2 separate regions of the Homo sapiens genome follow, and region 1 is linked to region 2. The links come from fine-mapping of genetic effects on gene expression. Tissue or cell type: whole blood. Region 2 holds a variant in brackets; the other region holds the start of a gene. All regions are shown on one strand. Distances are from middle to middle.

What was found. PIP is the estimated chance that this variant, and not a neighbour inherited with it, causes the effect.
Region 1: RESF1 starts here. The variant in region 2 is fine-mapped to the expression of RESF1 in whole blood (INTERVAL, PIP above 0.99).

Annotation. Positions count from the first base shown.
Region 1 is chr12:31,957,044-31,961,203 of GRCh38, forward strand. RESF1 (retroelement silencing factor 1) reads left to right here and starts at 2,372. Exons shown (of 6, transcript NM_018169.4): 1 at 2,372-2,448; 2 at 3,734-3,828. It overlaps LOC105369725 (a long non-coding RNA gene), which reads right to left and starts at 2,261. Exons shown (of 2, transcript XR_931503.2): 1 at 2,085-2,261; 2 at 1,450-1,761. RefSeq lists enhancers at 1-493, 497-1,290 and a silencer at 2,343-2,682.
Region 2 is chr12:31,922,503-31,926,855 of GRCh38, forward strand. No RefSeq gene overlaps it. Among named protein-coding and RNA genes, the nearest start is that of RESF1, 35 kb to the right of the region's middle. The variant ATATATATTTT/A (reference allele first, on the strand shown) is at 2,390.

The DNA of each region.
Region 1 (4,160 bases), 34 kb after region 2:
TCTCTCAAACTCCTGGCCTCAAGTGATCCTCCCCAAAGTGCTGGGATTACAAGCATAAGCCACCACGCCTGATCCCCAATCTTTTTTTGTTTGTTTTGTTTCATGAGACAGACTCTTTCTGTGGCCCACGCTGGAGTGCAGTGGCGTGATCTCGGCTCACTGCAACCTCTGCTTCCTGGGTTTAAGCAATTCTCCCGCCTCAGCCTCCCGAGTAGCTGAGAATTACAGGTGCCCACAACCACGCCTGGCTAATTTTTATATTTTTAGTAGAAACAGGGTTTCACCATGTTGGTCACGTTGGTCTCAAACTCCTGATTTCAAGTGATTCACCCACCTCAGCCTCCCAAACTGTCAGGCCTCTGAGCCCAAGCTAAGCCATCATATCCCCTGTGACCTGCACGTATACATCCAGATGGCCTGAAGCAACTGAAGATCCACAAAAGAAGCGAAAATAGCCTTAACTGATGACATTCCACCATTGTGATTTGTTTCTGCCCCATCCTAACAGATCAATGTATTTTGTAATCTCCCCCACCCTTAAGAAGGTTCTTTGTAATTCTCCCCACCCTTAAGAAGGTTCTTTGTAATCTCCCCCACCCTTAAGAAGGTTCTTTGTAATTCTCCCCACCCTTGAGAATGTACTTTGTGAGATCCACCCCCTGCCCGCAAAACATTGTTCCGCGGAGCCTCTCCCAAAACCTATAAGAATTAAAGATAATCCCACCACCCTTTGCTGACTCTCTTTTCGGACTCAGCCCGCCTGCACCCAGGTGAAATAAACAGTCTTGTTGCTCACGCAAAGCTTGTTTGGTGGTCTCTTCACACGGATGCGCGTGACACAAAGTGCTGGGGTTACAGGCCTGAGCCACCACACCTGGCCACCCCCAATCTTTAAGAATATTCTGGCCGGGCGCGGTGGCTCATGCCTGTAATCCCAGCACTTTGGGAGGCTAAGGCGGGCGGATCAAGAGGTCAGGAGATCGAGACCATCCTGGCTAACATGGTGAAACCCCGTCTCTACTAAAATACAAAAAATTAGCCGGGCATGGTGGCGGGCGCCTGTAGTCCCAGCTACTTGGGAGGCTGAGGCAGCAGAATGGCGTGAACCTGGGAGGCGGAGCTTGCAGTGAGCCGAGATCGTGCCACTGCACTCCAGCCTGGGCGACAGAGCGTGACTCCGTCCCCCCCCCAAAAAAGAAAGAATATTCTGTATGTAGTTTTTTTGTTTTGTTTCTGACAGACGCAAACGCACTCTTCTAGTAATGACTAAAGACTTCTTCGTTTAATTCACCAATGAACTAATCTGACAATTTATGTAACAAATAAATTCCTATAAACATAAGCTCCCTTGCCCCTCTCCAGTGGCACAATCTCTGATTTGCCATCCTGGTTGCAACCTTCATTACTAAGTAAACGCTTACGTAAACCTTAATAATGAGATTCGGGCAATATGATTAAATATTGGTTTATTTGAGTGCAAAGTTTGAGGATGGCGACCCGGTAGGACACAGACTCCAAAAGATGGGGGTCAGTGCTTCGAAAGGGAGAAGTTTGAGGGTCGTTTACACAGGCAGGGTCTGGGAAGCTTAACAGGATGTCAACATTTTCCATAGAAGGTTAACGCATAGCAATTTGATTGGTTCAAGGCAGTGTTTCTTTTTGGGAAGGGTCTATTTAACATTCCACATTAAGGATGTAATAGTCAAGCGGTCATTTATCTTATTCAATGCGTATTTTATCTCAGATGCCATCTGGTCTGAGCTGGGAACAAGAAAATAAGGGAGTTAATCTATAACAAAAGGTCGGCAATTAAGAGGTCGTGCTTCGTGATCTGGTCTCCAAAGTCAACTTTCCTCAGGGACTTTCAGAATCCCCAAATAGACTATCCACTTTCTTTCACACTTATTTGCCTCTAACTTGTTGATTTCTTTTTTTTTTTTCTGTTTTTTAAGGGTTAACAATCTCTTGGGTGCACTCTGACTTCCATGCGCTTTATAGAAAAAATTGGTCCTGAGGCCAGCAGCAACAGTCGGTCTCAGGAACTTGTTAGAAATGCACATTTTTCAGCCCCACCCCAAACCTACTGAATCAGCAGTTTTGCTGGTGGTTCTCAATCTCTCTTTAACGTGCCCTCTGGGTGCTGCGGATGCACGCTGAAGGTAGAAGATCGCTGCAGGAGATTTCCGCGTCGGGCAGATGAAAGCGCTCTGCAAGCCCGGGTGTTATCTGCGGGCCGGGTCCGCGGCTTCTCTGGTGGCACTAGGACCGCGGCGGCGCGGCCCTCGCAGCCACCGCCTCGGGCGTGAGGCGGAGCGTAGCTGTTCCTGGATCCTGGGCCTGGCTCCTCGACCCGCCCCTGGAGGCGGACCCCACTTGACTTAAACTCTGGGGCCCGGGAGGCCGCCGGTTTTCTCCCCGCTTGCCGGGGTGGTCCTCTTCCCTTTGTCGGTAAGTGTGAGACGAGCACCCCGAGGTCCCTCCGCCTTCCGGGGTCCGGGCGGGGCGGGGGCCGGGAGCCGGGAGCCAGAGGCACTCGCGGTCCGGGCCTGCGCGCGGCGCAGAGCGCTTTTGTTCTGCGGCAAAGACGCAGTCGCGGGCGGCCCCGGAACCCGGGCCTCGGGCCCCGCCGGCTCGCGCGTCCCGCCGTCCGCCCACCGGAGCTGGGCCGGGCCGCCGCGCTTGCTTCTGCCCGCCGCACCGGGGCCGGCCCTGGGCCTCCGCGGATGCCGAGCCTTGCACCGGAGGGCGGGCCTCGCTGGCTGTTTTCCCTCATTGCCTGGCTCTGCGCGGTAGAGGTCGCGAGTGGCGAAGGCTAGGACGCATTTTGTCGAACTGCGAGGCGCGGCTGGTGAGGCGGGTGGGTATGAGAGCTGCTTATGTTTTTAAGGCTTTCCTGTCGCTGGAGTGAAAAAGAAAAATCTTTTTTTTTTTTTGCTATTTCCCGAGGGTTCTCCTCCTCCCCGGCCCTCTTAAGCCGAAGCCTCCTGGAACAGAATTGCTGTACTGGCATCTATCTCCAAGTGGTCCGCGAACGCTTCTGCGCCGGCGATGGTTTCTGTTCCTCAGCAATAGTTCCTTGAGGCATTTTTAAATGCACAAACGCATACCCATCTTAGGTGTTCTCGAGGGACACGGATTCCCTAAGCAAACGTCCTTAGGGTCCTGAGTTCAGCAGCAAACTTTCGGGGAATCATTTCCGTGAAAACAATTTATTTGTAGTACATCGAGTGCATACTGTCTTAACATAAGGATGTGTATGAGCTTGAGGCGCATTTTCATTTAGTGGCGGGCGGGTGCATTTCAGTAGGCGGGCCGCAGAGCTTGTTTGGGGATTGCATTTTTCTGCTAAATGTGTTAGCTTTAATCATGTTTCAGTCACTGTTAATGTGCATGCATGTTAAGGTTTTAGGTTTTTTCCCCTGTGCAGTCGGATTTTTTTCTGTTTAATATTAATCCAATAAAGACAAGTGCAGAGATAAAGTATTATTGTTTTGCAGTGATACTACAATAGCGGACCTAGAGGAGCGCACATAAATTCTAACTTAAGTGAATGGTATTTTCAGGCCAGACCTAGTTTCTATTTCTGTTACTTAGGACACTTAATAAGAATTCAGTAAACTTAGCATGCTTTCAGTGCAGCCATAAAAGAAAACAGTTTTGCACAGCAGTGTCATATCTAGTAAACACATTAGCATGTGCTCTTTTATTATAAAATGTTTCTTGCTGTCCCTAGGACCAAAGAAGTAAACACTGTGTGGAGAGGGACTGACGTGTTTGGAGGGAAATGGGAATGTACACGATAATTAAAGAGTAAAGTTGTGCTCAACGGTAAGTGTATCACCTCTAAGAAACCCGCCCTGATTTAACCAGGCGGTTATTCACACTCAACTATGGAGTAATTCACCTATTACCGAATAAAATTACTAGCTCAGTGAATCAACATCGGTTTTAAATTAAACTGTGGGTCACAATGGAATTGACAGCAAAGCTTGAGAAGAAATGTTGTTGGCATAGTACTGAAAAATCAGTTGTTAATCTTAGCAAAATAAGGAAAGAGGTCTTTGGTAAGGGAATTGTGGTGGAAGTTACCTGGGCAGAGGTCTGCTTCTGTCTGTGCTGTGTTTATTTGATTGTTTTTATTATATTTTATTACTGTTGGT
Region 2 (4,353 bases):
TGCCTGAGGTATTACCTGGAGCTCTTTGTCTCATGACCAAGAAGAGTAAGGAATGTGGACACCAAGGGTGAGTTTAGAGCAAAAGTTTAATAAGTGAAAGAGGAAAGCTCTCCACTGCAGAGAGGGGACCTGAGAGGGTTGCCATTTCACAATTGAGTACAAAGGCTGTTATGAGGAACCCAGAGGAACCAGATGGGTCTGGGCATTTCATTTGCATAACTGAAATTGCATAAGTTGTGAATTTCTGGTAGCTCCACCCTGTACCCCTAGTGTGCTGGCTGACTGGTGGTTGTCTTTAGAAAAGGCACCACTTAGAAAATGGCATGATGGTGTAAAGGACCAACTGGAGCCTTGGCTCACAACCAGCCTAGTGTTGGAGTGATGATTCATAGAGGTTTGGCTCACAGTCCAAAGTATGCCCAAAAAAGGAAAGGAATGTACTCACCACAGCCCACCATCTACATGCCCACAAAAGGAAAAGAAACTATTTCCTGGAAGGCTGCTGCTTACACAAAGAACAAAGGTGCTTCTATGTTGGGCCTTGCTTCCTTATCTGTGCAGCTATGGGTATATCCTAGGCAAGCTGCCTGTGCTAGTTCCCTTATCTGTATCTGTAGCCTGAGTTTTCAGGTTGTTCCTTTGTTTGAAAGAATTCTACTGAGCACCTGCCCTAACCGCCTTCCTAGCTGGTTCTTTCTTTTCTCCTCTCTCAGCTTGATGCCACACTGTTGCTGTCAACGAAACTAAAATTATGGTGGCTCAACACATTGAACTGACAGATTAGGCCTACAATCATGAATCCTACCCTAACCACATATGTGCACCACAATTGGGGCCCACATCCTCAACTCCTCCTTGTTGCTCAAATTTGGACTATTCCATTTGACACAGATCATCCACTATCATTACCATGACTCCCTCCTCCATGGGACATGACTTCCTGGGACAAATCTATTCCAGAACCAAAGGGCTTACTGAAATAATTGATCTCAGTGGTTTCTAAGGAAATATTTAAATCAAAAGGGGAAAATCTGAAAAGAAATCCAAAATGGAGATGATTATGCCAGAGGTCTCTAAAAAGGAGCCAGGAGGGCATAAGGAGTTGGACCCCCATCACCCATATACTCAGATGAAATTTGACATGTTCAAATTGGACCAAATCACAAACATCCTAAAGAAGCAGCTGAATTTGATGTGAACTGTTTACACTGGGCCTGATCACAAATCTCCTGAGAAGACAGCTGTGCCAAATTAGGTCGTTCATCACCAAGAGACATCTAAGCTGTCAATCAGCCATTGTCAATCATAGACTGTGCTAAAATTTTCCACTTGTATAAACTTGCCAGGAACCTTTATAAGCCCCTGCCCAGCTTGTCTGTATGGAATATGATTTAGCTGCTTGCTCGATTTGTGTCTCTCAAATTGCAATTTATAAAAGATCTCAATTAAAATACCTTCTCTCATATGCTTGTCTGCAGTGTTGGTTTTACTTCTTATTAGTTGCCAATAGATAAAAAATGGACATGCACAAAAATTGATTCTATATTTATCTAGGATGAATTGTTCAATAAATAGTATTGTGACAACTGAGTAGCCAGCTGGAAAACGAGAGTTGAACTCCTACAGCTTACCTTCCATTACAGTTAATTCTAGGTGGCTCAAAGATGTAAACATTTTGCAAAGTTGTAAATCCATAATGAAAACCAGGAAAAGATGTACATCCTCTTCCCAAGCATGCTAAAGTCTTAAGCAGGCATTACATAAAATAGGAATTACAAATAGCAAACAGTTAAAGCTGTTATCCCCCATAGTGAAGAGGAAAGCCACAAAGTTATCTGTGTTATCCACCAGAATGACTGAGTTTATTTTATTTATTTATTTATTTATTTTATTTTTTTGAGACGGAGTCTCACTCTGTCGCCCAGGCTGGAGTGCAGTGGCGTGACCTCAGCTCACTGCAAGCTCCACCTTCCGGGTTCACGCCATTCTCCTGCCTCAGCCTCCTGAGTAGCTGGGACTACAAGCACCCGCCACCACGCCCGGCTAATTTTTTGTGTTTTTAGTAGCTGGGATTACAGTTGCCCACTATCATGCCTGGCTAAGTTTTTTTTTTTTTTTTTTGAGACAGAGTTTTGCTCTTGTTGCCTGGGCTGGAGTACAATGGCATGATCTCAGCTCACTGCAACCTCTGCAAAATACAAAAATTAGCTGGGTATGGTGGCATGCACCTGTAGTCCCAGCTACTCGGGAGGCTAAGGCAGGAGAATCGCTTGAACCTGGGAGGCAGAAGTTGCAATGAGCCAAGATCACACCACTGCACTCCAGCCTGGCGACAGAGCGAGACTCCGTCTTAAAAAAAAAAAATATATATATATATATATATATATAT[ATATATATTTT/A]TTTTAAGAATGTCCATTTCACCTTTGCAAAAGCCAAAAGATAGAAACAACTCAAATATGATCTATAGAATATCCATATAGTGATACCCAAGAAGCTAGAATATTAGTTGCCTTTGGAGAAGCAAACTGGATGGCTGAGATGCAGAATTGGGAGTGTGATTAATTTTTCCTTTTATTCTTTTGACCATGCCTAGATTCTACCAGTTAAAAATAATATAAATTATTAATAAAAACATGAAGAGTTGATTAACATACATCACATATTTTGAGTACAGGGATAAATATGGGAGACATGCTGTCCCAGATATCAAAATATAAAGCTATCAAAACATTGTTGGCCAGGCGTGGTGGCACATGCCTACAATACCAGCACTTTGGGAGGTTGGGGGAGGAGACTGGCTTGAGCCCAGGATTGTGAGACCAGCCTGGGCAACATAGTGAGACTCTGTCTCAAAAAAAGAAGAAAAAATAACATTGTCATATTTAAGCAGGGACAAATTGGCCACTGAAAAAGAATAAGGTCCAGAAATAGACTCAAGTGCATATGTATACTATATAGCAACCTAAAGTTTCCTTTCAAATTGTGGGGAAAGATGAACTATTCAACAGGTGCTGTTTTGTTTGTTTTCAAGAAAAATAAAAATCCTTACATCATATCAAATAATAAATACTTTTGGTGGCAGGGCAGGGGGGATTTAAAAATTTTAAGCCAAATAAAGATATAAAGCTAACAGAAAAAAAATTTTAGAAAATACTTTCATAACTTCCAAGTGAGAAGGTATGTGTGTATAAATATATACCTTAAATATGTATACTCTATGTATATTTAAAGAAAATGTATACCAATTCTGTAAAGAGGTAAATGATAATTGCTTGATTTTTTTTTTTTTTTTTTTTTTTGAGATAGAGTCTCACTCTGTCGCCCAGGCTAGAGTACAGTGGCGCGATCTCAGCTCACTGCAAACTCCGCCTCCCGGGTTCATGCCATTCTCCTGCCTCAGCTTCCCGAGTAGCTGGGACTACAGGTGCCTGCCACCACGCCCAGCTAATTTTTTGTATTTTTAGTAGAGACAGGGTTTCATGGTGTTAGCCAGGATGATCTCGATCTCCTGACCTCGAGATCCACCTGCCTCGGCCTCCCAAAGTGCTGGGATTACAGGCGTGAGCCACCGCGCCCAGCCAATTGCTTGATTTTTGATACCATGCCAGATCATTTTCCAAGTCCACTTGCCCGAATGTCACACTCGTAAGAAATGATAAGTATCCATGTGGGATTGGTTCTAGGATCCACCCTCAGTTACCAAAATCCACGGATGCTTAAGTCTCTTATGTAAAATTACATAGTATTTGCATATGACCTACTCACATCCTCCTACACACTTTAAATCATCTCTAGATTACTTATAATACATAATACAATGTAAATGCTATGTAAATAGTTGTAATTCTGTATTGTTTAGGGACTAGTGACAAGAAAAAATAGTCTGTACATGTTCAGTACAGAAGCAATCTTTTTTTTTTTTAAGAGACAGGGTCAGGCGTGTATACAGGCGGCACATGTTAATAAACTGTTTCGGCCAGGCACGGTGGATCATGCCTGTAATCCCAGCACTTTGGGAGGCCGAGGTGGGCAGATCACGGGGTCAGGAGATTAAGACCATCCTGACTAACACGGTGAAACCCCGTCTCTACTAAAAATACAAAAAATTAGCCGGGCGTGGTAGCAGGCGCCTGTAGTCTCAGCTACCGGGAGGCTGAGGCAGGAGAACGGCGTGAACCCGGGAGGCGGAGCTTGCAGTGAGCCGAGATCGCACCACTGCACTCCAGCCTGGGCCACAGTGCGAGACTCCATCTGAAAAAAAAAAAAAAAAAAAAGACGGGGTCTCAGTCTGTTGCCCAGGCTGGAGTGCAGTGGCACAATCATAGCTCACTGCAGCCTCAAACTCCTGGGCTC